4 linked regions of the Homo sapiens genome follow. The protein of the gene in region 1 interacts with the protein of each later gene in a biochemical or structural test. Each region holds a gene or a part of one and is shown in the gene's direction. Other genes may lie near its edges. The genes, in order: CTBP1, GTF2B, HDAC5 and ZNF366.

What was found.
Region 2: the proteins of CTBP1 (region 1) and GTF2B form a complex in vitro, tested with the Homo sapiens proteins (one study listed by BioGRID).
Region 3: the proteins of CTBP1 (region 1) and HDAC5 form a complex in vitro, tested with the Homo sapiens proteins (one study listed by BioGRID).
Region 4: the proteins of CTBP1 (region 1) and ZNF366 form a complex in vitro, tested with the Homo sapiens proteins (one study listed by IntAct).

Annotation. Positions count from the first base shown.
Region 1 is NC_000004.12:1,238,870-1,246,563, reverse strand, and holds part of CTBP1 (C-terminal-binding protein 1), read left to right. Parts: intron 1-5,044; 5' UTR 5,045-5,232; coding exon 5,233-5,239; intron 5,240-7,694. UniProt on the Homo sapiens protein: Corepressor targeting diverse transcription regulators such as GLIS2 or BCL6. Has dehydrogenase activity. Involved in controlling the equilibrium between tubular and stacked structures in the Golgi complex.
Region 2 is NC_000001.11:88,881,133-88,888,826, reverse strand, and holds part of GTF2B (transcription initiation factor IIB), read left to right. Parts: intron 1-1,459; coding exon 1,460-1,566; intron 1,567-7,694. UniProt on the Homo sapiens protein: General transcription factor that plays a role in transcription initiation by RNA polymerase II (Pol II). Involved in the pre-initiation complex (PIC) formation and Pol II recruitment at promoter DNA.
Region 3 is NC_000017.11:44,092,472-44,100,165, reverse strand, and holds part of HDAC5 (histone deacetylase 5), read left to right. Parts: intron 1-6,331; coding exon 6,332-6,591; intron 6,592-6,680; coding exon 6,681-6,852; intron 6,853-6,959; coding exon 6,960-7,074; intron 7,075-7,359; coding exon 7,360-7,490; intron 7,491-7,638; coding exon 7,639-7,694. UniProt on the Homo sapiens protein: Responsible for the deacetylation of lysine residues on the N-terminal part of the core histones (H2A, H2B, H3 and H4).
Region 4 is NC_000005.10:72,497,266-72,504,959, reverse strand, and holds part of ZNF366 (zinc finger protein 366), read left to right. Parts: intron 1-7,694. UniProt on the Homo sapiens protein: Has transcriptional repression activity. Acts as a corepressor of ESR1; the function seems to involve CTBP1 and histone deacetylases.

The DNA of each region.
Region 1 (7,694 bases):
CAGGCAGCACTTTGTGCCCGGCTGTGCCCTGGTGCTCCCCATGCAGTGCCCAAGTCAAAGGTGTGTGCCCTGTGAGGTGTTTACCCCGGTTGACTCTCCTTGTAGAAGGACTTAATGTTTCCCACTCCACTGGGGGCTGGAGAGGGCTCCATCCAGGTGGTGCTGACGGTGCAGGCCTGGCCCAGGGCCCAGGGGTGGCCAGGAGGTGGTAGAGGCAGCAGGCAGTGTCATACGGGTTCTGTGGTTGAACTGCATCGCCCAAGGGAACGCTGGTCGGAGCGCCGGGTGGAGCGCCAGGGTCCTCTGGTGGTCGCTGGATGTTGGTAGTTGTGGGTAAGAGCTCTGTGCCGGGAGTGTCTGGACCCCCGGGTCCTCCATTGTCAGCTGCAGTGGCCGGAGCCCACTGCTCTCCCCCGCACTGGGTCGTGGTAACCCACAAGGTGCCACCTGCGTCACTGACCATCGTTTCCAGAAGCCCCTCCGGCCACACATTCCATGTGGTATCTCCCACAAGGAAATGTTCGTTTTTTTCCCTGTGAAGCCAGAAATTTCTTGGTGGCTCTTTGCCGAGCCAAACGTTAACCTTGAGTTGTCTCTCTGGGCGGCCCCAGGTGGTACCAGTTCTCACGGGTGTTGAAGGAGAGTGAGGATGGCCCTGAGGGAAGCCCAGTTGGTTTGGTTGGGGAGGCGTTGGGGCTATGGCCCTGAGAGAGGTGTGGGCGGTGTTGGGACCAGGCCCCTTCTGCACCCTCCCCTGGCACCGCCGTTAACTCTCCAGGCCTGGTGTGGCCCAAGCCACCCTGCCTACCCGTGCTACCCTACCCACACGTGCCACCCTGACCTGCTTGTGCCATCCTGCCCGCCCGTGCCACCCTGCCCACCCGTGCCACCCTGCCCTGCCGCCCGTGTCACCCTGCCCGTCCATGCCACTCTGCTATGCCGCCCGTGTCACCCTGCCCTCCCGTGCCACTCTTCCCTGCCGCCCGTGTCACCGTGCCCTCCTGTGCCACCCTGACCTGCCGCCCGTCTGTGGTGTGGGGGCTCCTGGGCTGCCCTGTCTGCGTGGCTGGCAGGAGCCTCAGAGGCATCCGAGGCTGTCTCTCCAGTGGTGTCGTGTGTAGACTGTGTTGGGAAGGGGAGGAAGGTGTAGCCCTGATACCCCACATGTGGTAGGAGCCAGGAAGGTGGCGTTCTGGGGGTTCCTGGAGCTCACAGGTTGTGTGCATGTGCTCGCTGAACAAACAGGGAAACGTGCGGCTCCACGGATGTCCTGGAGAGGAATCTTGCTGGCAAATCCATGCCTTTGATCACAGCCCCTGCGCTGTGTCCTCTGAGCTGTGATGCGGCCCTGCAGGCCCCGTGGAGTGCGGTGGCTCCCTGGCTCACAGGGATGCTGCCGTCCAAGGTGCCGTATCGGCTCGTGGATGACTTGGGCAGTGTCTGTCTGGGGTGCTGTCGTCGGAGGAGCTGTTTCAACCTGTGGGTGACGGGCCTTGTCTGTCTGGGGGAGGTTCTCTTGGCCCCGTGCTCTCAGCCCAGTGGCTCCATGCTGCTGTGCGGCTCCCTCTTGGGGGCCTGCCTTCTCTGCCATTGCAGGGCAGGGCCTCAGTTTTCTCTGGGCGGCAGGTGGCTGTATCTCAGGACTGGAAGGCTCCGGGTCAGGCTGTGCACAGCCTTCGTTCATGTCAGCCCCTGGCTGGGCAGCACCGCCAGGCCCTAGTCTTTGGGCCTCCAGGCCTGGACAGCCAGAGGGGGCATCTCACCAATGCCCAGATGGCTGCCGGGGACTCACGGCAGGGCAGCTTTGTCACGAGAGGGCCACTCGAGCCCGGAGTAATCAGGGCTTATGGGGACAGGGCAGGGTGAGGGCCGCTGAGACCACCCAGCCTTAGGGTGCCCTTCTGGTGGTCGGGGAGCCCTTCCTGGGCAGCGGCTTTAGGGGCTGCTGTGGGGAGGGGGAAGAAGATGGGGTTGGTGAGGAGGAGCTTTTGGGACACTGTCCTGGTGGAGGTCGTGAGGGAGGGGAGCGGACCGGTTGGCCCAGCAGGGCTGGCCAGTGGAGGGACGTGGAGGGTTGGTAGCTGCCGAGCCTGGGTCTGAGCAGGCGGGGATGAGGACCAGGTGCTGAGGCTGGGGAAGGAACAGGGGTAGCTGCTTGGTCCTGGCGCATCTTGGTGCCCCCTGGGACTTCCTGGAACACCCCCCCCCCAGTGCCCAGAGACCCACTGTGGCTGTCTGGATCGGGGCAGGTCCCAGCCCATGGTGACCCCCAGTGTGCCGGGGCAACCCGGTCCCTCTCCAGACCAGAATGGACCGATGCCCAGCACACACGTGGATCGGGGCGGAGTGGGCAGGCGTGGCCAACAGGAGGGAGGATCCGGCAAGCAGATGGTGATGTGCATCCAGAGACAGGGCGTTGACATGTGGCCAGGAGGCTCTGGGGTCATCGGGCCGCCACCGTGCAGCCCCCCGGGACTTGATGCCTCCAGAGAACCTGGGGGCTGCTGCCCCTCACCTCACCCCCATTTACTTTAAAATCAGTTTTTGTTTTAGAGCAGTCTTAGATTTACAGGAAAATAGGAAGCACAAGCTTCCATGTGCTCTACACTCACTTCCCTCGTGGGTCCCTTGAGTGCTTTCTTACAACATGAGGTTAAGCGTCTGCAGGGTGAGAAGCTGGAGACTGTCCTCGTGTCGCTGGGCTGAGAGCCGTGTGCGGCTGTGAGTTTTTGATGAGGAAAAGCAGTGTGGGTCCTGGATTTGGACAGCACAGGCCCCTCTGGGAGCCGTGTGCCTTCACCTCGGAGTGTGTGGGCAAGGTACAGAGCTGGAGCCCTTGACCCTGACCGGCCAGCCAGGAAGGCCGTAGGAGGCCAGCTCCCTGGCGTGAGGTGCGCAGGGCCTCTGGCATTGCCCTAGGTGAGGGCTCCAGGACTCGGACACTGGCTCTCAGTGGGGCAGGTGTGGCCCGGCAGGGGGCGCTTTGTGGGTGCACAGTGGCCCCAGGGTGGTGCAGATGGTGGGCAGACCTACCCCAGGGCTGTTTCTGAGACAGAGGTCCCTGGAGGAGAACCAGGTGCTGGGCCTCAGGTGTCTGTCCTGAACTGGAGCAGCCTTGGAACAAGGAACCACAGGAAGTCCCTGTGGCATGGGGTGCAGCCCCTCAGGTCTGGCAGGGCTAGCCCAGGGAGTGCAGGGCCCCAGGAGCCCTGCCACAGGTTCCTCAGCTCGGGAGCTCACGGCCTCCTCACTGCAGGGTCCTTTCAGGAGGGCCAGGGTGGCCTTCACACATCTGCTTCTTCCTCAGAGACACAGGTGTGGGCACGTACTGGCCAGTATAGATAAGCATTGAGCAGCATTGATGGGTATCGATGATCCTCCAGGAGCAGCGGCTGGTGCCATGCTGCTGTGGGCAGTATTGAGTATTGGCCGGTCTTGACGAGCAGCAGCCGGTACTGGGCCACCGTGGGTAGCATTGATGAGTATTGACTGGTATCAATGAGTATCAGCCGGTATCAATGAGTATTGGCCCGTATCAATGAGTTTGGCCAGTATTGATGAGTATTGGCTGGCATTGATGAGTATCGGTTGGCGTTGATGAGTATCGGCTGGCATTGATGAGTATCGGCTGGCGTTGATGAGTATCGGCTGGCATTGATGAGTTTGGCTGGGCGTGGGTGGCGCGGTGCCTTGCCCCCTGGCCAGGCTGGCTCGTGGGTGAAATGTGACATTTAGGCGGTTTTCTCCTGTCCTTTTAGTTTGTTTTTATGTGGTATCCGGGTACCATGGGGAGATCTGGCATTCAGGGCAGGAGGCTGCAGCGCAGGTCATGGGGGCTCAGGCGCAGGTGATGGGGATCCCGCTCCACAGTGTTGCTCTTGGGCCCTCCGTCAGGGAGTCCCACACAGCACCTGCCATGAGGAGTGGTGTTGGGGACCCTGGATGGGAGGTGCGTGCGTGGGGCTGCACCCCAGCCCCTGTGATGGTGTCTCTGGAAGCTGGAGATGGTCGGCATGTATGCTTGAATCCTGCAGAGGGAGTTGAGGGTTGGAGATTTGTCTGCGAGGCCTCTGCGCAGGGGCGGCCTCACAGCACACTACCAGGGTCTTAGGCTTGGCTGAGTGGCCCCTTCTGGCCTGGCAGGCAGTCGTCTCAGCCCACGCCTGCCATGCTGCTGGGCTGGTGGTGGCCGGCTCCTGTCCTGGTCAGCCTGATGTCAGCTGCACGTTGGGGTCAGCCTCGGTGCTGTGTCTTCATGCCAGAGCAGGGGCCAGGTGTGGGCAGCTCAGTGACACCCTCCCGAGGGCTGGGCGATCGTGTGCACTCTCAAGCCTCTACTGGAAGGCTTGGCCCTCTCAGGGGCCCCCTGCCCCTGTGCATTCAGCCACTGGGGTTCGTGCCCTCAGCTTCCCGCCAGGCCCTGGCCGTAGCGGTCAGGAAGAGCTGAGCAGTTTTTTTGGGAGAATTGAGGGAGCGTCGCCAGGATGCACTGAGGGTCGGAGGTGGAGCCGGCGCGGCTCAGTGCAGGCAGTGCCAGGCTGGATGCTGGAAAGCCAGCAGCACCTCTCCCGGTGGCTCCTGGGAAGTTCCACGTCCTTGCCTGGTCACAGAGGCCCGGGAATCAGTGACATGAGATAGAAGCTTCCAGAACAGGAGGCAGAGCCTTTCCGCAGTTTCCCTGCCCACAGCACACACCCTGTGCCCTCCGTCCCCTGGTTCTTGGACACTGGGGACATCTGGATGCGGCTAGAGCCTGTGGGGGTGGCCGCAGCCCTGGGGGACTGTTCCCAGGAGTAGGCCTCGGGGCCACAGGGGCGCGGCCTCGGGCCTGGCACTGCAACCTCAGGGTGAGCGCCCTTCGTGTGTGCGGCAGGAGCCGGGGCCCCTGGCTGTCAGCAGGCCCCCGAGTCCAGGTAGGTCCCAGACAGCAGTCCCGGGTGTGGCAGATGCAGTGAGGTCCACTTCTGAGGCGTTCCCTGGAGTCTGTGAGTTCTGGTCGGACCTTCGATGGCATTTTAATGTGTCTCTTGTGTTTGATTTTTAGTAAGACTTTGACCCCGACGCAGGCTTCAGTGATTGCCGCGGATCAGAAGCCTGAGCACTTTGGCTCGAGACAATTAAGGACGTGGGATGAGGCTCCGAGACAGGACGCGGTTCTGCCTGGGGATCCTGAAGATAAAAAGCTTTGAAAAGTCGAATTCATGGTCGTGGAAGCTGAGCCCATATTAAGAGATGTCAGGTTGGTAGGGGTTCCTGGCGTCGGCGGCAGAGTGAAGCCGGCCGGTCTCTTTGCGACCGTGTGGAGGAGGCACTGCCTCGGATCAAGTCGAGGGACCTGGGCTGCATGGGCGTCGGGCCGGACTGCTGCCACCTGACCCCCGGTGTGCTCTGGGCGAGGTCAGGTGCCCCTCGAGGGAGGGCTTCCTGCACACCTGGTGGCAGAGCACAGCTGTGGTCAGGCCTGTCCGTGGCATCTGCTGTCTGTTTCTGTCGGAAAGTGTCTGAGAGGCACGGAGGGCCTCCATGTGGAGGCCGCCAGCACGAGGGTGGAGCCCCACACGGAACCCTGGAAATCTCAGGTGTCCACCCGGCTGGCCCAGGAGCAGGGCCGTGGCCCCTGTGGAGCTGTTCCTTGTGGTTGGTCTGCGCTCTCTGGCCCGGAAGTGCGTGCAGTCGGAAACAGCCTTGGGCTTGGGGGATGCTGCAAAGCCTGCTTCAGCACAGGCCGTGTGACTGTGAAGCCTCCTGGGTGTGTCCCCAAGCCTGCAAGGGTGGGCTGTCCGGGGAACCCTGGCACGGTGGTCAGGGGCAGCTCATGGGTGATGTGAGGAGGCACCTTGGGTGCCTGAGCCTGATGGGGCTTGGTGTCTCCACCTGCTCCCCCCTCCCCACCGTTCAGCTGAGGGACCCGGTTCCCACTCACCCAGCACCCGGGAGTCCCCCACGCGGTTCCGACGAGGGACCCGGTTCCCACTCACCCAGCACCCGGGAGTCCCCCACGCGGTTCCGACGAGGGACCCGGTTCCCACTCACCCAGCACCCGGGAGTCCCCCACGCGGTTCCGACGAGGGACCCGGTTCCCACTCACCCAGCACCCGGGAGTCCCCCACGCGGTTCCGACGAGGGACCCGGTTCCCACTCACCCAGCACCCGGGAGTCCCCCACGCGGTTCCGACGAGGGACCCGGTTCCCACTCACCCAGCACCCGGGAGTCCCCCACGCGGTTCCGACGAGGGACCCGGTTCCCACTCACCCAGCACCCGGGAGTCCCCCCAGGCGGTTCCGACGAGGGACCCGGTCCCACTCACCCAGCACCCGGGAGTGCCCCACACGGTTCCGACGAGGGACCCGGTTCCCACTCACCCAGCACCCGGGAGTCCCCCACGCGGTTCTGACGAGGGACCCGGTTCCCACTCACCCAGCACCCAGGAGTCCCCCCAGGCGGTTCTGACGCAGCCGAGCGGTCTGCAGTGATCCCGTGTGTCCATGCCTTCCTCATCAGAAGTGAAATCCAAGGATACTGAGAGCGGATGTCTATCCACTCACTCAGAAACAGCAACATAAACCTTTCTGCTCATGAGAAGTCATCACCACCACACACAGCGGGGAGGGAGGCCACGTGCAGAGGGAGGCCATGTACAGTGTCACTGGGCGGCCTGTCTATGGTGCTCGTGGGCAGCTCCCGTCCAGAGGGAATGAAGGAACAGGCGAACCAGGACGCGGTTTTGACCGTGCAGACCTCACGTTTGGGATCTGGTTTCCTATCTTGAAGGAAAGTGGGTGGAATGGCCAGTGGCTCCTCCGAGGACGCCAGGGCGCGAGGACCTCACGGGAGGGGCATGGGCCCAGCCGTACTGGGAGCCCTCGGCTTTGGGGTGGTCAGTGGAGACCCATGCCCCGTCCCCTGCAGGCGTGTGCTGCAGGCCCACTGCACCCCTGGGCTGTCCACCAGAGCATTTCTTTTCTCTGCCATGGGTTCCAGGAGGCACTTCCCTGCTTCCTGGATACTGGCAGCTCGGTGGCCTCTGCTCACCTGCAGGCGGATGGGGCAGCGGATGGGGCGGGAGACTGGGCCGAGCGTGCTTGTGGCCGCGGCCACTGGAGAGCCTGCTGGGTCACTCTGCTCCTTGGTTCTGTCGTGCGCCTCCCCTCCTGCTGGCCGAACGGTCCTGGGTACTGCTTGGTCTCCTGTGGCCGGTCTTTGGAGGAGGAGGGGAGGGACCGGCTGGGCCCTGGCCCCAGCTCCGCCTCTGCCCAGCTGCCGTGGGGCTGACAGTGGCCCCACCTGGTGCTCCCTGCCTGGCACGGGGCGGTCGGGCGGTGCCTGGAAGCTGCCATGCTTCTGTGACGCCTCAGAGCCCTTATTTCTCCAGTTGGCCCCGATGAGGCTTAGTTGCGTCATACGCGAAAGGAATGGGTGTTAATGAGCTTTAATCATCTGGTTCTGGGAAGGTCAGGGGCACAGAGTGGACTTTAACAGGTTTTAACCCTTTTCTTCCTTTGTTCTGTTTCTTTTCTCTTCACATCTATAATTGGAAGTAATGCCAGGCAGAGGGTTGGGGGCGTCCTACGTGAAACACTGGTGACCCCATCAGGGATTCCGGGCAGCCACGCGGTAGCCCAGGCAGGAAAGGGACAACCATGTTCCCAAAGTCCCGTGCTGTCATCTTGTGTCCTCCAGTGTCCTGGGTCCC
Region 2 (7,694 bases), on another chromosome or scaffold:
AGTTGTCATAAATGGCATATGTATTCTGCTGTCTAGATTCTGTTAGTATTTTGAGGTTCATCCATGTTATGGTGTATGGTTAGTTCATACTTTTCAGCTTTGTATAGGTTTTCTACCTTATTCTTCACTCTTCATATCTTTGAGATGTTTCTGTATCATTACACAAACTATAGTTTTCTATCTACTTTTTAATACTGCAGAGATATTAGTTCTTAGCACGTGTTGCACATGGCCTCCTCTTTTACTAATTTGTAATTACTGTTACTCTGCTAACATTTTCCTTTATTTCAACATGGTTTTTCATAATTTATATCAACTGTTTAATTTTATTTGTCATAATTTATTAAAATACTTTCCTTAGAGGAATTTATGGAATAAACACAAATATGAAGTAATACTCATCCCCCCGTGTTCCCAATGAGAAGATTCAAGACATATTCTAGTTAAGCTGACTAGATAAGTTTAGGGGGGAATATGGATTATTTTATCAGTTTTCCCGTAGATATCACCTTCTGAGTTGAGAGTTAACATTCTGAATTGTATTTGCTAGCATGAGAAACTTTACCCCAAACCACAAATACTATTTACATACTATAAGAACAGTTGATTTTGTCTTTTACGTGTATCTGATGTCCATAACCTAACCATTTATTGTATTTCAGATGGTTTTTAAAAGGGCCTTATTTGCAGTGATACCAAGAATTTATGATTGTGAGGTCATACCCCCTGAAATAATGATCAAATCTTTGTTGCTTTTACAGCTGATTCTGTCAGATCATTTAAGATTAATGTGTCAAAAAAAGATGAATGTGTCTTCTGCAAACTGCTTTGTTGTTCAAAATAAATTGAGCTAATTATTAATATCACAGATAACAAGTAGCTTTTGAAACAATTTCTTGAATGATAAATTCAATAACTCAATTCTGGACTAAAGGAAATCATCAAGTCTTAAGTTCAGCAGAGCAACTTCTACCATCCCTCATTTCTATACTTACTGGGTTCAGTGTACTATTTAAATCTGTTACTAAAGTAGTTAACAAGTAGAAAAATACAGAGAGAAATTGTTCTCTGACTAGAGAAATAAGTGGCAAAGAGCACAAACTGGATGGTAATGTAAATGCTGCAGGTTATTACGGTAACTAGTCATTACTATACTAATCAACATTTCTAAAAGTCTTACTGGCATACATATTGAGAGAAGAAACAATTATTTTCTATTTATGTTTTGAAAGCCTTCCACAATAAAATAAGAATTCCAGTGGAAACTACTTGCCAGTTACTAGCTGGAATTTAAAATAACCTAACTGGGATGTTTACTTTGAAAATCTAGCTTATATGTGTTACAGTTGTATGTATGAAAAAACGTTCACAATCTTTGTCTTCCCCATCCCCCATCCCAGAAGATTAATTTGATACATGTTGGTTGGGAAGATGTAAAAATACAACTTTTTTCTTTTAGTTTGGATGCTCTTCCAAGAGTCACATGTCCAAACCATCCAGATGCGATTTTAGTGGAGGACTACAGAGCCGGTGATATGATCTGTCCTGAATGTGGCTTGGTTGTAGGTGAGTTGTTATTATGGTTTTAATTTAAATTACTGTTCAGGAGGCCAAGCATGGTGGCTCACGCCTGTAATTCCAGCACTTCGGGAGGCCAAGGTGGGAGGATCACCTGAGGTCAGGAGTTCGAGACCAGCCTGACCAACATGAAGAAACCCCATCTCTACTGAAAATACAAAAACTAGCCGGGCGTAGTGGTGGGCACCTGTAATCCCAACTGCCCAGGAGGCTGAGGTAGGAGAATGGCTTGAACCCAGGAGGCGGAGGTTGCAGTGAGCCGAGATCGTGCCACTGCACTCTAGCCCGAGCAACAGAGCAAGACTCCGTCTCAAAAAAAAAATAATAATAATAATAATGTTTAGGGTCCTTCACTTTTGCATAGTTTCCAAACTATCATTTAATGAACACATTTTTGACTTTCTTCCCCAACAAATAATTTATTGCAAAAAAACAATTAGGAAACAGAAACGAGTAAACTTATTCAGAGATATATTTTATTGTATATCCAAATGTATATTTTTATAATGTGGGGTGGGAGCTAATCCAGAAGAAACGAAAAGGCCCCAGTAATTTCATAAGTCCTTAGTCTGAAATATTTGGTAGAGGACTGGAGAGATGGGCTGACACTCATGCATATTAAATAATGAATACATGTAATCAAACTTTTGTGGCTTTTTTATACATTGGGAAGTAGATAAACATGATTTTTGAGTCCCACTTAAAGCCTTTTAGTCAAAAAGAAGATTTATTATAACTTTTATACAGTCATCTATTGATGAATATCTTGTATAAAATTATTGCCAAAAATAACACTTAAAGTTTCACCTTGTTCCTACTTGCACACTAATCTAGATATGCAGCAGAACTTTAGACTACAGATAGTCTGTTCAAAAATTATTCTTGTGGTGGAGTTGTAGCATCTGAGAATAGGGGTAATATTTAGCAGTTTGAATTACTTAAGAATGAAAATTCTAGAAGGATTGTGGGCAGTATAACAGAAGCATTAGTAGTGGCATACTGTGGACTTGACTTACTTGGTCCAAGAAGGCTGCTTGCCTCAGACCTATAGTGGGAGTTTTAAAGTATAGAGTTGCTAATAGGAATTGAGAATCATTTGCAACCGTATTCTGCTGAGTAAGGAATATTAATAGCTAATATGTTTACTATATACTAGGCACTATTCTAAATGATTTACATATTCACTCAGTTTATCCTCACAACAAACCTGTGAGGTGAGTACTACCATTATCTTCATTTTACAGATAAGGAAACTGACGTTTAGGTAGTCTAGAAGACTGGCTCCATTGTCTGCGTGGGAGGCAGATTTCTATCTTGTATTGCCTTTCATAATAATAAAATTTTAATCTGGGGTCGTCAAAGTACAACCTATATATGGCCTATTTGTTAATTCTGGCTTTTACATTTTTAAATGGTTAAAAAAAATCAAAAATAATATTTTAGGACATGTGAAAATACAAATTTCAGTATCTATAAAGTTTTTCTTCGTTTGTTTTTTGAGACGGAGTTTTGCTCTTGTTGCCCAGGCTGGAGTGCAATGGCGTGATCTCGGTTCACCACAACCTCCGCCTCCCGGGTTCAAGTGATTCTCCTGCCTCAGCCTCCCAAGTAGCTGGGATTACAGGCATGTGCCACCATGCCCAGCTAATTTTGTATTTTTTTTAGTAGAGACGGTGTTTCTCCACATTGGTCAGGCTGGTCTCGAACTCCTGACCTCAGGTGATACGATCGCCTTGGCCTCCCAAAGTGCTGGGATTACAGGCGTGAGCCACTGCGCCTGGCCAAAGTTTTTTTTTTGATACAGAGTTTCGCTCTTGTTGCCCTTTTGTTGCCCAGGCTGGAGTGCCGTGGTGCGATCCCAGCTCACTGCAACCTCTGCCTTCCAGTTTCAAGTGATTCTCCTGCCTCAGCCTCCCGAATAGCTGGGATTACAGGGGCCCACTACTACACCTGGCTAACTTGTTGTATTTTTAGTAGAGACAGGGTTTCAGCATGTTGGCCAGGCTGGTCTTGAACTCCTGACCTCAGGTGATCCACCAGCCTCAGCCTCCCAAAGTGCTGGGATTACAGGTGTAAGCCACCATACCTGGCCTGGTATCTATAAAGTTTTAATGGAATATAGCAACACTCACTTGTTTACATAGTGTATATGACTCTTTTCACATTACAACAGCAGAGCTTAGTAGCTTCAACAGAAACCACATGTGCAGCTCTCATCACTTTTTTTCTGCTGCTCAGCATACTAATTGCAGTGATGCAGTTATAACAGCAACATGTTGATCGCCACATATGTTGCCATACTGCACTATTTTATTTATTTGTTTTTATTACCATTACATATCCATCACACCAAAACAAGAAAAGTTAACTTTGAATGTCATGCTTTTAAGGCATGGTGGAGTATGGATTATTTTGTCACTGAATTAGATGGCAAAACATTGTGTTTATTACACAATGATACTGTAGCTGTGTTAAAAGAATACAGTAAGCGTGGACATTACCATACTGAGCACTCATCAGAATATTTCTAACTCAGGAAAACAATGGTCAGAAAATAATGTAAAATAGAATATCTTAACACAACAGAATTTTTTCACAAAAATAAAAGAATGAAACTGAGGCTGCAACTAAAGTTTCTAAGTGGCTTATTTCTTGGCCAAGCAAGGAAAGCCATTTACCAATGATAGGTTAATTCATATTTGATTGCAACAGCTGAAGAAATGTATGCAGAGAAAATAAATTTATTTAAGACTGTTAGCATCTCACCAAGAACAGTTGCTTGAAGAGTTGAGGACAGTGGAGCAACATCAGTAGTCAATTAAAAGTTAAGGCAAATTAGCTCAGGTATATTTTTCCTTGGCTCTTGATGACTAGATCAATGTTATTGCTGCTTTGCAGTTGTTTATTCAAGAAGTCAGTGTTGGGCGAGGTGCAGCGGCTTACGCCTGTAATCCCAGCACTTTCGGAGGCTGAGGCGGATGGATCATGAGTTCAGGAGTTCAAAACCAGCCTGGCCAAGATGGTGAAACTCCATCTCTACTAAAAATACAAAAATTAGCCGGGCGTGGTGGTGGGCATCTGTAATCCCAGCTTACTCGGGAGGCTGAGGCAGAGAATTGTTTGAACCTGGGAGGCGGAGTTTGCAGTGAGCCGAGATTGCACCACTGCACTCCAGCCTAAGTGACAGAGTGAGACTCTGTCTCAAAAAAAAAAAAAAAAAAAAAAGTCAGTGCTGAGCTTGACAGAAGAACTAGCTCCAGTGAGTAGTCTACATGGAACAGCTATAGGAGAAAATAGCTTCAAAGCAGTTGCAAAAGTGTTAATTCAGTATAACCTGAGGTGGAATCTGCTAAGATTTATTATAACTGATAAGGGTAAAAATATGTGGAGCAGAAGACTTAGTGGAACAGATTTGCCAAGATTGAAAACGTAAGGTGTTTAAAAAGCCTATTACATTATTCATCAGCAGTACTTTGTTAGAGAAGACTTTAATCTACCTTGTGTTATTTAACCAGTAATTGTGAACAATGAACTTCATTCACTCTTGTGCACGTAACTATCAATATCAGTTCTGTGACTTTTTTTTTGAGACAGAGTCTCACTCTGTTTCTCAGGCTGGAGTGCAGTGGTGCGATCATGACTCACTTCAGCCTCAACTCCTGGGCTCAAGCAGGACCCTGGCTAATTTTTTTTTTTTGGTACAGATAGGGTCTCACAGCGTTGCCCAGACTAGTCTTGAACCCTGGCCTCAAGTGATCTTTTTGCCTTGATCTCCCAAAGTGCTGGGATTATAGGTGTGAGCTATCATGCTCAGCCAGTTTTGTGACATTTTGTTAGAAATAGAAGCTGAATATTTCTAACAAAATACTGTTAGGGTGACTTGTCTTAATGACACACTAATCTGGTGACTTAGCAGTAGCAAAGTTTTGTTGTGATTTTTCTGAACTCGGGGCCAAGAGTAAGATTTTTCTGAATCAGTACTGCCTTCGGCTACTGCTGTTGAACACTGGATGGTTTTGAAAATTAGCTTTTGCTGCAAACTTGCTAATATGTCTTAATGAATTCATCATAGAGTTACAAGGCAAAATACTGCTTTTCTGTGAAACATAAAGTGCAGTAAAGTCAATTTCACAAGTTAACATTTGAATCATAAGTAATGTCAAATTGCTTTTATATACTTTATATACTTCCAGTGGTGTCAGAAGTTAAAATAGGATGTTCATTACCACATAGATTTGCAGCAGATATATTTTCCAGGCTCAAGCTATATTTTCAGCAGTGTTTTTCAGACTTGAATGCAAATGCAAAGGAAATTTTCATATTTCAAAATTTGTTTTCACTGTACAGTTAAGGGGGTTCCATCTAACCTTCAGTTGGTAGTGACTAATCTGCAGTGTAACAGTATGTTAAAAGGCCATTATCAGGAGAAGAATGTAATACAATTCTATGAATGCCTTCCAAGCAATAAATATGCTCAATTAAAATCATACACTTGTGGATTAATATCGGTATTTGGCATTACTTGTCTATGCGAAAAGAAAGTGAAATACATAAAATCTTGTTAACACAACATCATTGACACATGAACATTTGTCATTGATTTTGATAGAGAACATTAACTTTGAACTCCAATTAAGTGAAATGTGATCCCCAAAAGAGAATTTTATTTTCCTCATTAGTAGACATGTAAGTACCTACTTAATATCCTGAATTTTGCCTCTTGACCCACAAAACCTAAAATACTTACTATGTCACCCTTTACAGAAAATGTTTGCTTAACCCTTCAGTTAAATGAGAGCCTTCCAGTTCTTCCACAGTGTTAAGATCAAACTGATAATGTGTACGAGTGAGACAGACATACATGAGATTGAAGATAATTTCAGCTTCTTAGCTCTCCTAACCTCTGTAGCGTTTTTTTTTTTTTTTTTTTTTTTTTTTGGAGTGAGAGTCTCCCTCTGTCCCCCAGGCTGGAGTGCAGTGGCACGATCTCCGCTCACTGCAGCCTCTGCCTCCGGGGTTCAAGCGATTCTTGTACTTCAGCCTACTGAGTACCTGGGATTACAGGCATGCACCACCACACCCACCTAATTTTTGTATTTTTAGTAGAGACAGGGTTTCACCACGTTGTCCAGGCTAGTTTTAAACTCCTGGCCTCAAGTGTTCCACCTGCCTCGACCTCCCAGCGTTCTGAGTTTACAGGCGTGAGCTATGGCACCTGGCCCATTTTTAAATAATGTAAAAGTATCCCATTATATTTTCAGCCTTCCCACCAGCCTCACTTCCACTTTAACCAGCAAGACAGTGGAGATTAATCAACTGAAAAAGGAAGATACAATTCACAAGACTTGTATGCTTTCTTGTGCTTGGAATTCCTAATTTTTGCTTGTACTTTTCTGCTATATCAAACCAAAGGAAGTTAATTTTGTTTTTGCTTTTATTGACTTACTAGTATCAAACACCATGTTAAATCTTGAGATCTGAAAAACATATCCAATAAAACTTACTTTCTATAATATATGACAGTATTTCTTTTTGATACTGATTCTTCTAACATAAAATATAACCAACACTTATTTTAAAATATACGGTAGGCTCATTCATAGATATTTGTGGTTAAATGTGTAATATATCTTGTAAGCGAAGAATCCATTCCATTACCAAACAAGGGCAGGTGTAGAAGAGTCTAGGAGCAAAGTTCTGTTTTGCTGAGACTATCATCAAGCAAATTAAGTTGGAAATACCTAAATTGAACATGACACTGCATGAATATAAATCAATATATGACATAAACACCTGTATATATTAATGTCATATATCAATAGTACATTTAGATTGCATTAAAATCATATGTCACTTGATGAGGGTATGTTCTGAGAAATGCATCGTTAGGTGATTTCATCATATGAACATCATAGATGGTACTTAATAAAACCTAGATGGTATAGTCTACAACACACCTAGGCTACATAGTATAGCCTATTGCTTCTGGGCTACAAACCTGTACAGTGGTATTGTACTGAGTACTGTAGGCAGTTTTAACTCAGAGGTAAGTATGTATCTTTTTTTTTTTTTTTTTTTTAAATACATACCTAGCATGTATTTATTCTGGCTTTTGG
Region 3 (7,694 bases), on another chromosome or scaffold:
GAATTCTTGTTCCCAAGGCACTGCTAAAACCTGTGCCTCATGGCCCAGGGCCACTCGTCTATTTGGAGGCAGTGTCTCTTTGCCTGGACACCGTTTTTTTAGACTAAGGCTGTGCTGGCAGTAGTCTCAGGGGTTGCCCCACGAGCACCTACATCATCTCCCCCAGAGGACCAGGCTCTCCCTCATGCTGCCTGAAGAATCTACCACAGAAGTCCCCACTGGGCTGATGGGGTTCCTGAAGAGGAGGCAGACCCAGCGGGATGGGAAAGAAGTGTCACTCAGGTGGTGCACTGCCCATGGCCACTTGTGCTCGTGAGCTGGGCAGGGCAGCTCCTGAGCCAGAGCTTGCTATTTTTCCAGCCCCTCGCATGGCTAGAAACACACAGCCCCAAGGCCAGGCACGGTGGCTCACGCTGGTAATCCTGGCACTTTGGGAGGCTGAGGTGGGCAGATCACGAGGTCAGGAGATCGAGACCACCCTGGCTAACACGGTGAAACCCCGTCTCTACTAAAAATACAAAAAATTAGCTGGGCGTGGTGGCGGGTGCCTGTAGTCCCAGCTACTCAGGAGGCTGAGGCAGGAGAATGGCGTGAACCTGGAAGGCGGAGCTTGCAGTGAGCCGAGATCGCGCCACTGCACTCCAGCCTGGGCAACAGAGCGAGACTCCGTCTCAAAAAAAAAAAAAGAAAAAACGAAACACACACAGCCCCACCCACTCAGCAACCCAGGCTGGGACTTCCCATGGAGGCAGGGTGGTCAGCCCTGCAGAAAACCAGAGGTCAGGATGGTGCTGCTGCTTGTTACTGAGGCCACCACTCCCAGGAGAAGGAAGGTTCTCAGTGCTGGGAAAGAGGAAAGTATAGAGCTGGGTGCGGGGGGCCCAAGGCTTTCCCCCAGAGCCTTGCCTCTGACCTCTGCAGGAGGTGGCTCTACTGGCCTCTCGATTCCCATCAGAGTGAAGTCCTGGCAGGTGAGGGAAGGACCCAGGTCCTTGTCCTCCCCTGTGAACCTTTCCCTGGCTTTCTTTTCTTTTCATTTTTTTCTTTTTGAGACAGAGTTTCACTCTTGTTGCCCAGGCTGGAGTGCAATGTCGCGATCTTGGCTCACTGCAACCTCTGCCTCCCGGGTTCAAGTGATTTTCCTGCCTCAGCCTCCCGAGTAGCTGGGATTACAGGCATGCATCACCACACCCGGCTAATTTTGTAATTTTAGTAAAGATGGGGTTTTTCCATGTTGGCCAGGCTGGTCTTGAACTCCTGACCTCAAGTGATCCTCCCGCCTCGGACTCCCAAAATGCTGGGATTATAGCCACCAACGCTTGGCTCTCCCTGGCCTTTCAGTGGGGCTCTTTGCTAGCCAGAGCTCTTGGCCTGTCCTCTTAGGGAACAGTGCCCCTTCGTCTACCCTCTTTTTTTTTTTTTTTTTAGATAGGGTCTCGCTCTATCACCCAGGCTAGAGTGCAGTGGCATGATCTGGGCTCATTGCAACCTCTGCCTCCTGGGTTCAAACAACTCTCCCTGCCTCAGCCTCCTGAGTAGCTGGGATTACAAGTGCCCGCTACCGCACCCAACTAATCTTTGTATTTTTTAGTAGAGATGGGGTTTTGCCATGTTGGCCAGGCTGGTCTTGAACTCCTGACCTCAGGTGATCCGCCCGCCTCAGCCTCCCAAACTGCTGGGATTACAGGCATGAGCCACTGCGCCTGGCCCAGGTTCCCTTTTTTTTAAGAGACAGCCCTGGGTAACTGGCCACCACGCCCCGGGCCTGTCTATCCTCTTCTTTTCCCAGAGGTTCCCCAGCCTTCCTAGTCCACCAGGAGGCGGCCAAGAGCCTCTTCCTATCATGACACAACCACTTCCCCTTCCAGGTGCTTGGTGCTGATGGCAACTGCTGCCACCTGCTCTGCTCATGCCAGGCTGGCAGAGGGCACAGATCCTTGAGAGAGTGCAAGGCCCGCCAGGCTCCAGGGTCTGTGCCTGGGCAGACTCTATTCATGGGGCTCCATGCCCCTCCTTTCCCTGACTCAGGCAGAGTAGCCATGGCCCCTTCCACTTTGGGTGGAGCAGGTTGCTACCTGGCAAACCCCTGGGGTGCTGCATGTCACCCAGTCCCTGCAGGTCCTGCAAATTAATATTCTGGAGTCGCCTGTGCTTCCTGTTTGCATGGGAACGAGGCTGCATGGCAGAGCCCTCTGCCTGCCCTGCCACCTGCATACCAATAGGGCTGTGGTTCCCGCTGCAGCTCCGGGCCTAACATCTCTGCTGCTGCAGTGGCAGTGACAGGCTGGTGGGAGATTCCCCTTGCCTGAGCCCATGTGCTCTCTGCAGGGCTCCTGCAAGGGAAGCCAGTACTGCTGGCGACAGTTCCAGCCCTAGGCAGGGTTATCTGCTGGGAGCCAGGAGTGCTTGGACCTCTGCCCTTCCCTGGGCAGGCAGGCTGGAATCTGGCTCCTACAACCCCGGCATTGCCGGGAGCAGCAGGTTGACGGCTGTCCATTGCTTGGCTGAGTGATCAGAGTGCCACGGGCCAAGCCAAGCTTGACTAAGAACAGATAACCCTCCGGCCAGCTCAGGGCCTTGCTGAGCACTTCACGGGCTGGGGAGACCTGAGCTGGCTGCCATTTCCTTGCCACCATCGTGGGCTGTGGCTAGTTACCTCCAGGAAGGCCTTCTGCAGTTTCCAAGGACCCTTTCTCCTGGTGCTGGGGCAGGACATGGGTTGGGAATGAAGATGAGTATGTGTAACCCCACCCTCTGGCCACATCTGGCCACTTCTGCACATGTGGCTCTGGCCTTGTGGCCACAGAGTCGTCAGTATGGCTGGCGGGAAAACCACAGAGGAATGTTCCCAACCATGCCTGGGGGAGAAGAGGCTGGTGGGGACTGCTACATCATGCTGAGCTTTTACCTTCTCCCACCCCACCCTGCCTGCAGGGGGTTCCAGAGGCCATACTCCAGGCATGTGGGTGGCATGGCCTTGGCCTCGGCCTCCAGCAGGCCTTGCTCCTGCCTTGGTGACACCCATTCAGTGCTAGGTTCTCTGGAGAGATCCAGACCCATCTAAACAGGTGTGGGGGCCTCTCTTAGCCCACCCTTTGCCACCTCCTACCTCCCACCTCCCTCTCTTCTCTTTAAAAATTGTTCGGCTGGGTGTGGTCACTCATGCCTGTAATCCCAGCACTTTGGGAGGCCGAGGCGGGTGGATCACCTGAGGTCAGGAGTTCGAGACCAGCCTGACCTACATGGTGAAACCCCGTTTCTACTAAAAATACAAAAATTAGCTAGGCCTGGTGGTGGGCGCCTGTAATCCCAGCTGCTTGGGAGGCTGAGGCAGGAGAATTGCTTGAACCCAGGAGGCGGAGGTTGCAGTGAGACTCCATCTAAAAAAAAGGCCAGGGGCAGTGGCTCATGCCTGTAATCCCAGCCCTTTGGGAGGCCGAGGCGAGCGGATCACCTGAGGTCAAGAGTTTGAGACCAGCCTGGCCAACATGGTGAAACCTTGTGTCTACTAAAAATACAAAAAAATTAGCTGAGCGTGGTGGCGGGTGCCTGTAATCCCAGCTACTTGCGGGGCTGAGGCAGGAAAACTGCTTGAACCCAGGAGGCAGAGGTTGCAGTGAGCCGAGATTGTGCCACTGCACTCCAGCCTGGATGACAAGAGCAAAACTCCATCTCCAAAAAAAAAAAAAACAAAAAAAAACCAAAACTTGTTTTTTGTTTTTTTTTTCCCTCTCTCGCCTCTTAATGCTGGGGGGTGGTCTGGAGAGAGGCCAGCTCATGAAGGCAGAAGATACTGGTAGCCAGAAGGATTTCGGGGTCCTTTTTTCTCAGGCCTGGGCTGGAGTGGGCCACTTTGCCACAGGAGTCTTCCCAGCCCCTCGTGACCTCCCTGGGCTGTAGCGAGGAGAGTGAGGGCTTTCTTTGGAGAAAGAAGTAGAAGAGAAACAGGAATGGGTTGGCCTGCCTCTCTCACTTCCGCCTTCCCAGGCAGTGGTATCCTGCCTTCCCCTTCCTGGCTGGAGACTTTGTGGGGCTTGGGCTGGGCTTGGGGCTCCCTGCTGGTGTGGTGTTTGCCCAGTTGTCCTGGCAACCACAGGGCAGTGGTGAGGAGTGACATGCAGTGACCTGAGAACTGTGTGTAGGTACAAAGAAGTGGAGACCTAGCCCTCCCATAAGCCCATTGGAACTTCGTGCACTCCCTGAGCCACTCGGCCCATTGTCCATGTGGGGACTGGACCCAAGGTCTTGGAACCCAGCAGGCCCTCCACTGCCTTCCCCTCCCCAGCAGCCTTCCTCTCCCCAGCCGGTTCTCCGTAAGACCAGAGTTCTGAGATCTCTGCCGAAGCTCCTGCCCTCCCCCTGCTGTTACCCTTCTTCCTGTCTGATTCCCTTTCCTTTCCTGTCTCCTCCTCCCACCTCCTCCCTGCTGCCTGCCCGCCCATCCTCTTATTCCCCCTCCCCCCAGGCACAGCTGCTGTTTGGCTCACTCTATATATAGCGGCATTTTCAGGGTAATTACAATAAAACTGTTGAAAGGAGATAATCCAGCAAAGGAAGCGAGTCTTGACTCCCAGCCCCCTCCTGTCCCTGGCTTGGTGCAGCCCTGCACCCCCTTTCCCCGAGGCCTCCTGTTCCCACCCCACCCCCATTCCCACAGCCTCTCCCTCCTGCCCAGTCTGCCCCAGATAGGGATGAGGCCCCAGAAGGGGACAGAGGGTAGAGATATCCAGAAGGTCTCCACCAGCCTCTCCTGGGGTTACCAAGGGCACTGTCAGTCCTAGAACCAACCTCTGTGCCTCAGTTTCTCTTCTAGTATGAGGCTTTGCATGGGGCACGGTGTTGAGAAATGGGAGCGGGCACAGTGGTTAAAAGCTTAGGATTTGGACTCATATTCTAGTTATTGGATCACCTAGCTGTGTCTGGTTGCTACTTAAACTTCTCTAAACCTCAGTTTCCTCATCAGTAAAATGGGGTAATAATAGCATCTAAGTCATAGGGTAACTGTGATATTTAAATGAGTCATTGTAAAATGCCCAGAGATGTTGACTATCAATGATAATATTATGTGTTGAAGGCTGGGCAGTGGCTCACGCCTATAATCCCAGCACTTTGGGAGGCTGAGGTGGGAGGATCGCTTGAGCCTAGGAGTTTAATTCAGCCTGGGCAACATAGTGAGACCCTGTCTCTACTAAAAAATTAAAAATTAGCCTGGTGCATTGGCATGCTCCTGTAATCCCTGCTACTTGGGAAGCTGAGGTGGGAGGGTTGCTTGAGGTCGAGGCTGTCATGAGCCACGATCATGCCATTGCATTCCAGCCTGGGCGACAGAGCAAGACCTTGTCTCTGATATATATATAGGTAGAGAGATAAATACACACACATATGTATGTGTGTGTGTATATATATATATACACACACATACGTACACACATATATATACACACACACACACAGATACATAAAATGCGTCGAGTAGTCACAATCTGTCAGGTACAGCTTCATGCTTATGCACATTTTCTTTATTTTTTTGAGATGGAGGCTCGCTCTGTCGCCCAGGCTGGAGTGCAGTGGTGCGATCTTGGCTCACTGCAACCTCCACCTCCAGGGTTCAAGCGATTCTCCTGCCTCAGCCTCCTGAGTAGCTGGGACTACAGGCGTGTGCCACCACGCCCAGCTAATTTTTTTTGTTTTTAGTAGAGACAGGATTTCACCATGTTAGTCAGGATGGTCTTGATCTCCTGACCTCGTGATCTACCCGCCTCAGCCTCCCAAAGTGCTGGGATTACAGGCAAGAGCCACCGCGCCCGGCCTCCCCCTTTTTGTTTTTTGTTTTTTTTTTTTCTGGAGACAGTCTTGCTCTGTCACCCAGGCTAGAGTGCAGTTGCATGATCTTGGCTCACTGCAACCTCCGCCTCCCGGGGTTCAAGAGATTCCCATGCCTCAGCCATCTGAGTGGCTGGGATTACAGGTGTGCACCATCACGCCCAAATAATTTTTGTATTTTTAGTAGTGAGGGGGTTTCATCATGTTGACCAGGCTGGTCTCAAACTCCTGGCCTCAGGTGATCTGCCTGCCTCAGCCTCCCAAACTAACCTGAGATTACAGGTGTGAGCCACCGTGCTCAGCCTGTATTTTCCTATTGAAGTTCATGGCTTCAGCCTCATTTAATTAAGGTAAAATGTTGCATCCATGGAGCAGAGGGATTTGACTTCCTCTCTGTCTCTGTTCTCTTTGGGTCTCCTAGAATCCTGCGTGGTAGCCTTTGGGCCTCAGGCATGACTGGAGTCTGGGGCTGGGCCCACTAACTCCTTCCTGTCTCTTCTGCCCACAGTGGAGGTGAAGCCGGTGCTGCCAAGAGCCATGCCCAGTTCCATGGGGGGTGGGGGTGGAGGCAGCCCCAGCCCTGTGGAGCTACGGGGGGCTCTGGTGGGCTCTGTGGACCCCACACTGCGGGAGCAGCAACTGCAGCAGGAGCTCCTGGCGCTCAAGCAGCAGCAGCAGCTGCAGAAGCAGCTCCTGTTCGCTGAGTTCCAGAAACAGCATGACCACCTGACAAGGCAGCATGAGGTCCAGCTGCAGAAGCACCTCAAGGTGAGCGAGGGGGGTGCGGGGGGCCGCCCAGACCTCCGATCCCCGCCCGGGCCTGGCTCACTTGTGCCTCCGTTCCCATGCCCCTGCAGCAGCAGCAGGAGATGCTGGCAGCCAAGCAGCAGCAGGAGATGCTGGCAGCCAAGCGGCAGCAGGAGCTGGAGCAGCAGCGGCAGCGGGAGCAGCAGCGGCAGGAAGAGCTGGAGAAGCAGCGGCTGGAGCAGCAGCTGCTCATCCTGCGGAACAAGGAGAAGAGCAAAGAGAGTAAGGCAGGGCCTCCTGGGACCTCGTAGGGCCCCGCCCGTGATGCCTGCCCCTGCCATGGGGGGTCTGGCCCCAAGCAGCCAGGTCAGTTGTGCCCTGTCCTGCAGGTGCCATTGCCAGCACTGAGGTAAAGCTGAGGCTCCAGGAATTCCTCTTGTCGAAGTCAAAGGAGCCCACACCAGGCGGCCTCAACCATTCCCTCCCACAGCACCCCAAATGCTGGTAATGGCCCTGGGCAGGCATGGGTGGGCATAGGTGAGCCGCTCAGGGGCTGCCTGGCTATAGGATGGCAAGGGGCTTCTTCCCCGTGCCCATATACGGGCCCTGCAATCTCTCCTTAGAGACAGGACCCCCATCCCTGGTTTATTTCCTCATTCCTTCCCCAAGATCCACGTCCTCTTCCTATATACAAACGATTTTTCATAAATGTAGATTGCCAGGTGGCAGGTCCAGCAGACTGGGTGATAACCTAGATCTGCTTCCATCCCCACCCCCCCCCCACCCCAGGGGAGCCCACCATGCTTCTTTGGACCAGAGTTCCCCTCCCCAGAGCGGCCCCCCTGGGACGCCTCCCTCCTACAAACTGCCTTTGCCTGGGCCCTACGACAGTCGAGACGACTTCCCCCTCCGCAAAACAGGTGAGTGAGTCCCCCACCTGGCCTCCCAGAATATGGCTCCTGGGAGGCAGAGGTGGGCTTGTGGCAGTGTCAGCCCTGACCCCAGTGGGCTCAGCTGCAGATGTGTGCTGCTGTGCGCGTATCTGAACCTCGGTTACCTTCTCTCCAGCCTCTGAACCCAACTTGAAAGTGCGTTCAAGGCTAAAACAGAAGGTGGCTGAGCGG
Region 4 (7,694 bases), on another chromosome or scaffold:
TGGTTTGAATTTCAGCTTCGTTGCCTACTGTTTATGGGCCTCGGGGCAGGTACTTAACTGCTCTAAATCTCAGTGTCCCCAAATGTAAAATTGCGTCAACATAATGGAGTTGTGAGAATTAAATACAACTATCGGCATAAAACACTTAACATAATGTTTGGCAAGTAGTAGGAGTCAATCAGTGTCAGTTATATATTTTTTAAGGGTCATATATTAACACTGAAGAGTACTGTATTTTGTTAATACAGAGAACAGAATGAGTCTCCTATAATTTGTGTCATTATTCTTGCTTAATACTATACCAAGGATCTATCAGAGCAGATATTATTCCTCACAGCTTTAGAGTTGGGCACACACTGAGTGAAGATATTCTAAATTCTAAATTCTTATAAAATAAAAGAGTGTAGAGTTTAATGTATTGATATTCATCTTCACGAATGGCAGAAATGGCAGATTTAGCTTCACTGAATGCAGCTGTATTCAACACAGCTCAATGCAGGGGAAAGTTTGTCTCGGGATAAAAGTTTTCAACTTAGATGAACGTGCAAAGAGAGTTCAGTTATATTGTGGACATTTTATTCTCCCTTTCACCCACTTCCCCAACTGCTTGAGCTCTGTGTTATTGGTGACCTTTTCCCTGGTTGTGGAGGGCTGGAGACACTTTTTTTGGAGACCATCGTGGTTGTACCATGACTCAGCTAAAGAGGAAAGGACTTAAAGTGACACATTCTCCTCCTGCCCAGGGCTGAGCACACTTGGGGTTCTCTCTCCTCAAACATTGTAACAGTGAGCCACTCACCTTCACACAGAGAAACAGAACACTATATATCACCATGGGTGTGCGTGTGTGTGTGCATGCACGCGTGTGTGCGCGCGCATGTGTGTGTGCGTGCGTGTGTGCGTGCGTGTGTGCATGTGTGTGTGTGGTGCCTGATTGATCCAACTGCTATTTTTCTTTCACTCTAAACTTTAAAACCTGTATGACCGTTAGTTTGTCAAGTAATAATGATACTTTTACTTAGGTCTTAGTTAAATTTCTCTCCACTTTCCAAAAGCAAAACACACAACAGCAAGAATAACAAAAAATCTACCACCAATAACCAAAGCCATTCAGGTCCTTTTGTTAGACTGAGAGCTTGTGAAACAACAGAGACATGTTTGGACACTTAACCTTAGGGACAAATCGAAGCTGAGTTGTTCTGCACTAACGTGCAAAAGGTGCCCTCTCATGTGGCTTGGTGGAGTAGAAAAAGACCAGATTGGGAGTCAGAACACTGCTGTTCTCATCCAATCTCTGCATTTCCTATATGCATGACTTGACAGGTTGCTTTACTTGCTTGGATCTCAATTTTCTCATCTGTGAAATGACAAAATGGGATAAATAAGTAATTTTCGAGGTGTGCGTGTGTGTGTGTGTGTGTGTGTGTGTATTAGAATTCACCTACGGGCTTGTTTATAGTCTCCTCCTGCCCTGTCCACTTCATGGGATGATCTGTGAGACCCTTTTGCTGACATGCTGTGATTCTCCAAAACAGATGGTCAGTGTCTTGCTCCGTCTTCTTCTGGATGGCATTAACATTAACTGTAAATGCTCGTTTTAAGAGCCATGCTTTTAAATGGAATTCCTATTCAGCACTGGATGTTCTCTCTAGAAGATAGTTCTGAGTATATCAAATGTTATTTTAGAAGCTATTAGTATTATGGAATAAGGAATGTCCTAGCCGGTTGAGCAATCTGATGATAATGATCAGTGTTCTAGAACCATATGTAAATCACAAGATCAATTACTTAGATCTGTAAACATTATAAATCAATATAAATAGCACTTTTTTTTTGAGACAGAGTCAGGCTCTGTCACCCAGGCTAGAGTACAGTGGCACAATCTTGGCTCACTGCAACCTCCGCCTCCCAGGTTCAAGTGATTCTCCTGTCTCAGCCTCCCGAGTAGCTGCGATCACAGCTGCCCGCCACCACGCCTGGCTAATTTTTTGTATTTTTAGTAGAGATGGGGATTCACCATGTTGGTCACACTGGTCTCGAACTCCTGACCTCAAGTGATCCACCTGCCTTGGCCTCCCAAAATGCTGGGATTACAGGCATGAGCTACTGCGCCCGGTGGAATAGCACTTTTTGATTTATCCATTTCTATATTATTTGCATCTTAGAGTGAGCATGTATTTGTTAATCAAGAAAAACACAGATACTAAGCTTTTTCTATTCCCTTTAAAAAATATTAGTAGATTCTATCTCATAAGGTTTTGTTTCTTATTTTTTTACAACGTGTGCTGTGATGAGCCTATTTTACAAGTTAGATCCTTGTCCCTAATTTAATGGTGATGTAGAAAGGCAAAAAGATTGATAATGGTGTTTGAAAAATCAGCATTCACAGGTCATATTGTATGCTTCAATTATAAGGAAAATATAAACCTTATAGAAAAAGTTGTTCTAAATTTCCTGATTGAGTTTTTACCTAAATCACTCATTTTTTTCTTATATGTTTATATGGATAATGAAATAAAGCAGCAATGGACACAGATCTCCCTCTGACAGGAACATAGAGACAGCAAATAATTTTAATGTGCACCCTCAGAAACAACTAGCCTAATGAAGGCTGTTCTTTTAGACTATTCAAAAACCAAATACATTTACATAAAACAATGGTATTTACATAAAAGAATAAGAACATGTCTTCATCCAGCGTTATGTGTAATACATAAGTTCACAAGAAAGGAAGCAGCATGAGGACAGGGACTTTGTTTTGTCCACTGCTGTCTGCCCAGGGCCTACAATAGCACAGAGCCTGTCATAGATGCACAATAAATATTTGTTAAATAGATGAGTTAATGAATCAGTGGGCTGTAGAATGAAAGATGCTATCTTTATACAATGCCAAATGAAGCCATTAATTTGAAAAAAAAAAGTTAGTCAAACTTTTCTGGAGTCTAGACAATGCCAAACTGCCAGCTTGATGGATTTATCCCTCACCTGAATTGACTGGAACTATATGGGCTTGTTCTGCTGTTGTGTGCATGGGGCTGCTACATGTGTATTAAAATGTCGTCTTGGCAAGCACCCCCACCCATTTGTTCATGGGAAATTAACATTTATCAGATAGATACACAGAAAAGACTGTTGTTGCATTTTATTTTCCATTTATTTTCTGGGCAGATGATGGGTTTGCAAATTGTTTTTGGCGAGACAGAGAACGGTCATTTGTTTTTCCTTGACTAAAAGAGCTGTGAGCCAGGATCCAGCCTTGTAGGAAGTGTTCAGCTCTCTGGTTTGTTATAGGCAAAGGCTGTGAATCCAAGCTAAAGGAATGCCACTTGGGCTGAATTGACAAAACACCATGGGGTAAATTCAGGGAGAGAAATGTGATACCCTTGTTGAGCACAATACCCTTTCCTTTCTTTAATTCAAGCCAATTGAAGAAGGCCAAAACCACTGGATCGAGTCAGTTTTATACTTATTTGGCAAATTTAAAGTGGCAAATCTAAACACCTAGTAACAAAAGTTGGGATTTTGGATGATGCTTTTTACATTTAACAACATTGGGGTTCTAGGTGTCTGTTAATTGGAGTAGAAACTGAAAAGGCACTCTCTATTAACATTGATAGAATCTCTCTTTAGTGTCAAGTACCAGGGCACACAAAGAGAATACTGGGCAATTCTCCTATATTCCTTTGATAGATTATGGCCCCACTCTGACCTCATTCTTTGATGGCCACTGATACTAAATGGGAGAGTGATTTACCAACAACGGCACTGCCACCACCAGCGCCAACAATTATGGAGGAGTCATTACTAGGTTTGGGGCCTCCTCAGAACTTTAGATACTTCATTTCACTTACCCCATTCTCAAGTACGTGCCTTATTCTCCTCATCTTAGAGCTGAAGAAAGGCAACCACCTTGTTTAACAGATAAACTACAGAAAGTACGTGATTTGCTCAAGGTCAGTAAATTAATGTTGCTTGTTTTCAGTTTCCTTATAAGGAAAAAGTGTCATCTGTAGCTAATAATTTCTTTAAAACAAATATGTATCCTTTAAGGTAGTAGCCTTCAAATGGGGTCCAAAGACCAACACCATGGCACCACCTAGGAGCTTGTTAGAAATGCAGAATAAATCCCAGCTCCACTGCAGATCAACTGAATCAGAATCAGCATTTTAACAAGATCTCCAAGTGACCAGTTGCACATTCAAGTCTGAGCAGCACTGCCTTATGGTTTTGGACTGTTGCACACAGATTGATCAGGGAATGTAGGACTCTATTCCAAGGAGTTACAAAGCCATTTGTTAACTTTGACCTTGTCCAAGACAACATACCTCCCTATTAAATAGTGGCATTACTGGACAAGTCTCCAATCTATTCAGCTCTGAGCAACAGTAGGCATGATTTCTGTGATCTCTCCCATGAAGTTAACTCCATATCATGGGATCCTAGCACTCTCAGAAAGGGCGAGGGTATTATTTTCAGGTGCTTTCTGAGCACCAATCATCAGAGTTACCTGGGGCAGATTTCTAGGCCTTTCCCCAGATCTAACAAAGCTGAAGAGGGGACCAAGGCTCTGCTTATTATTCAAGCTGCTGGCTCAGGGTAAGGAAGCCCCCAGGGAGGGTAGTGATGAGTATTTCAGGCAGATTACCCTAAAAAATAGTTTAGCTTTTTTCAGTAGCTTGAAAAAAACATTTAAAACCATAGTGCACACATTAGGGCACCGCAGAGTTCTTCCAGGAAGAAAACGTACTCTGCCGCTTTCTTCCTTTGAATGCTTGAGAATAAGGATGAGAAATCTTGCTGTCTGCCCTGTGTCTTCCTCAGGGAGAAAGGGAGGACCCGCTTCTCCAGCATCACAGCCAAAGAGGAGACGCCAGTCCACACGCCTCCCTCTTCCCAGTGAGAAAACTCTGTGGAAAGAATCCTTAGAGTTTCCTTTGCACTGGGGACTCACCGTTCTCTCTTGGAACAGAAATCAAGAGGAGACTATTGTTGGAGGGGTGGGGGAAGGAAGCAGCGCCGGAAGAGAGCGAGGGAGAGGACCGGAATCGCCTCTGGTTTGCTGAAGCCTGGACAAAATGGGGCCTCTGCCTGGATGGAGCCCATGGCATCTCTCCCGTGACTGAGGCCCTCTGGCCACCTTCCATGGAAAGTGCAGGGAGATGAGGAATTTCAGGTTTTCAGCGCTGTTTAATGGAACGCCTACCTCCATAGTGTCCACCACTTGTTTCTTGCTGTTTTTCTAGTTCAGGCATTTTCTTTCCCACGACACGGTGGAATTTCCTCCTCTCACCCCTACTTCCAGAGAACTTTTTCAGTTGTTTTTTTCTTTTTTAAGTACAAAGAAGGGTCTTCTAGCATTATCCTAAAAAATCTATATATTGAACATTTTTAGGGTACCAAAGAGTTCTATGCTTAATCTATAAAGGCGGGGTTGGTGACAGAGCGAGACTCCGTCTCAAAAAAAAAAAAAAAAAAAAAAAGGCAGGATTCCTGAAGTGCTAGAATTTGAATTCTTAGGGTGAGGAATATGTGAAAAGTTCTGAAAGGTTGCTGGCAGGCATATCCAGAATCTCACCTCCTACCTGGCTTTTCAGAGATCTGGGCAAGGAGGGACTATTCCCAGCATCGTCTTTCTTGATATTCAGGAAACAATCAGTGATGCAGCAGGCAAGCAGGCGTTTCCTCCAACATGGTCTGCAGCCCTCCTAGCACCCAGTGATTTCATGGCACAATCACCTGTCTCTGGCTGGGGAGAAGTCTCCAGGGGCAGAGAGTTCTTCTGGTGGCAGCCTGGGCCTCAGATCTAAATGGGGATGTTTGTGAAGGAATAGAGACACCAGTTTTGTGGGTAACAAAGTTCTGCTCAAAACTGCATCATTTTGCAGAAGGCAGTCCCATTCCATGTGTCTTCACATCCTCCATATGTTCAGACACATCCCACTATTTAGAATGACTGACATTGACTCTTTTCCCCCTTGAGTCTCCTAGGAGAGAAATTTCAGCATCACATCTTTAATACATGCAGTTGGGAAGGACATTTAATGGTGAGAAAATCCCATTTCAGAAGGATTAGGACATAAAATGCCAAATGTATTTGCTCTTCAAGCAATATGGATATTTTGGGAGGAGCAGTGGTTTGCTGAAGTGCTATCGCTAGGTACATGGTACATGTACCTTACACTTGTGTATACATACACACACTGCCTACCCAAAATCACTGGTTGTTATAAAAGATTATGAGCCAATGGGTTAGCCCCAAATTGTTTGACTCAAGAATGTAGTATCTGATGTTCAATCTCTTAAACTTCCAAACAGATTTACTGTCCTAATTATATTTTTCTTAGTGATGTTAAAAAGAGTTTGAATATTGTTAGCTAGTGGGGGCAGGGAGAAAATGAGAGAAGATTTAAGTGTTACTACTAGCAATTCATAAAGCACTTCATTCACTTACTGTGTGTTGTTTTGAGAATGTGAGTAACGCAGGAAAGAATGCTACTTGGAGTCAGAGAATAGAGGATTGAGTGTGTGTACTGACACATGAATGGATGGCAGATCAGTGAACTAAAATGTATATGGGAATTTAGTACATGATAAAAATAACATGTATATCAGCGGAGAAAGTTGAATTATGTAATTAATGAGATTGGGACAACTGGGTAGCTATTTGGGAAAAAAATAAACTTATATTCCTACTTGATTTTTTAAATTAAAATAAATTCCAGATAGATGAAAGACTTAAAATGTTAAAAATAAAAATATACTGTGAACTTAAAATTTTGCTTTAAAAAGTCTTAAAGAAAACATAACAACTGTAGAGATATTTTTTTTTCGAATCGCAGAGTAGGAAGGGCCTTTCTAGTTTTACGCAGAGGCCTTAACATTTATCATGCATTTTATTGCATTACAATAAAAAGCTTCTGCAGGGCCAAAACTCAATAAACAAAGCCAAAAGACAAACAAAACAAAAAATGGAGGAAGCATTTGCAACATGTATCACAAAGAGCTTAGTATAAACAGAAAAATGAGCAAATGACATGAAACACATACTTCACATAAAATGAAATATAGTTGGCTTATAAACATGCACAAAATAAAAGATATTTTAATTCATAATAAGAAGCAGCAAATTAAAACTATGAGATACCAATTTTTATTTACTTGATCGGCAAAGATGAAACATTTGTTAACACACTTATCTCTGGGGTTCTGGAGAGAGCTCTCAGATATTTCTGGTGTAACTGAATTAGCAGAACATCTACAGACAGCAATTTGTGAATGTCTATCAAAATGTAACATTGACTCCTCTTGAATTTATCCTATATAAATAAGATGTAAAAAGACATACCTACAATGCAATGTATCTGCCACAGCATTATTTGGACAGAAAATAATTAGAAATAGCACAATTGTCCATTAATAACAGACTGGTTAAATTAGTACAGGGCATCTGTACAATGGAATATTGTGCAGACCTACTAAATGAGGGAACATAATAGAGTCCAGAAATGGACTCTCAGTATATGTTCAATTGATTTGACAAAGGTGTCAATGAGGGGAAAATAGTCTTTTAAACAAATGGTACTGAAACGATTCCATATCCATAACAAAAGAAAAAATGAACTTTGGCTCTTATCTCACACTATACACATGTATTAACTTGGAGTAGATCATAGGCCTGAATGTAAGTGTTAGAA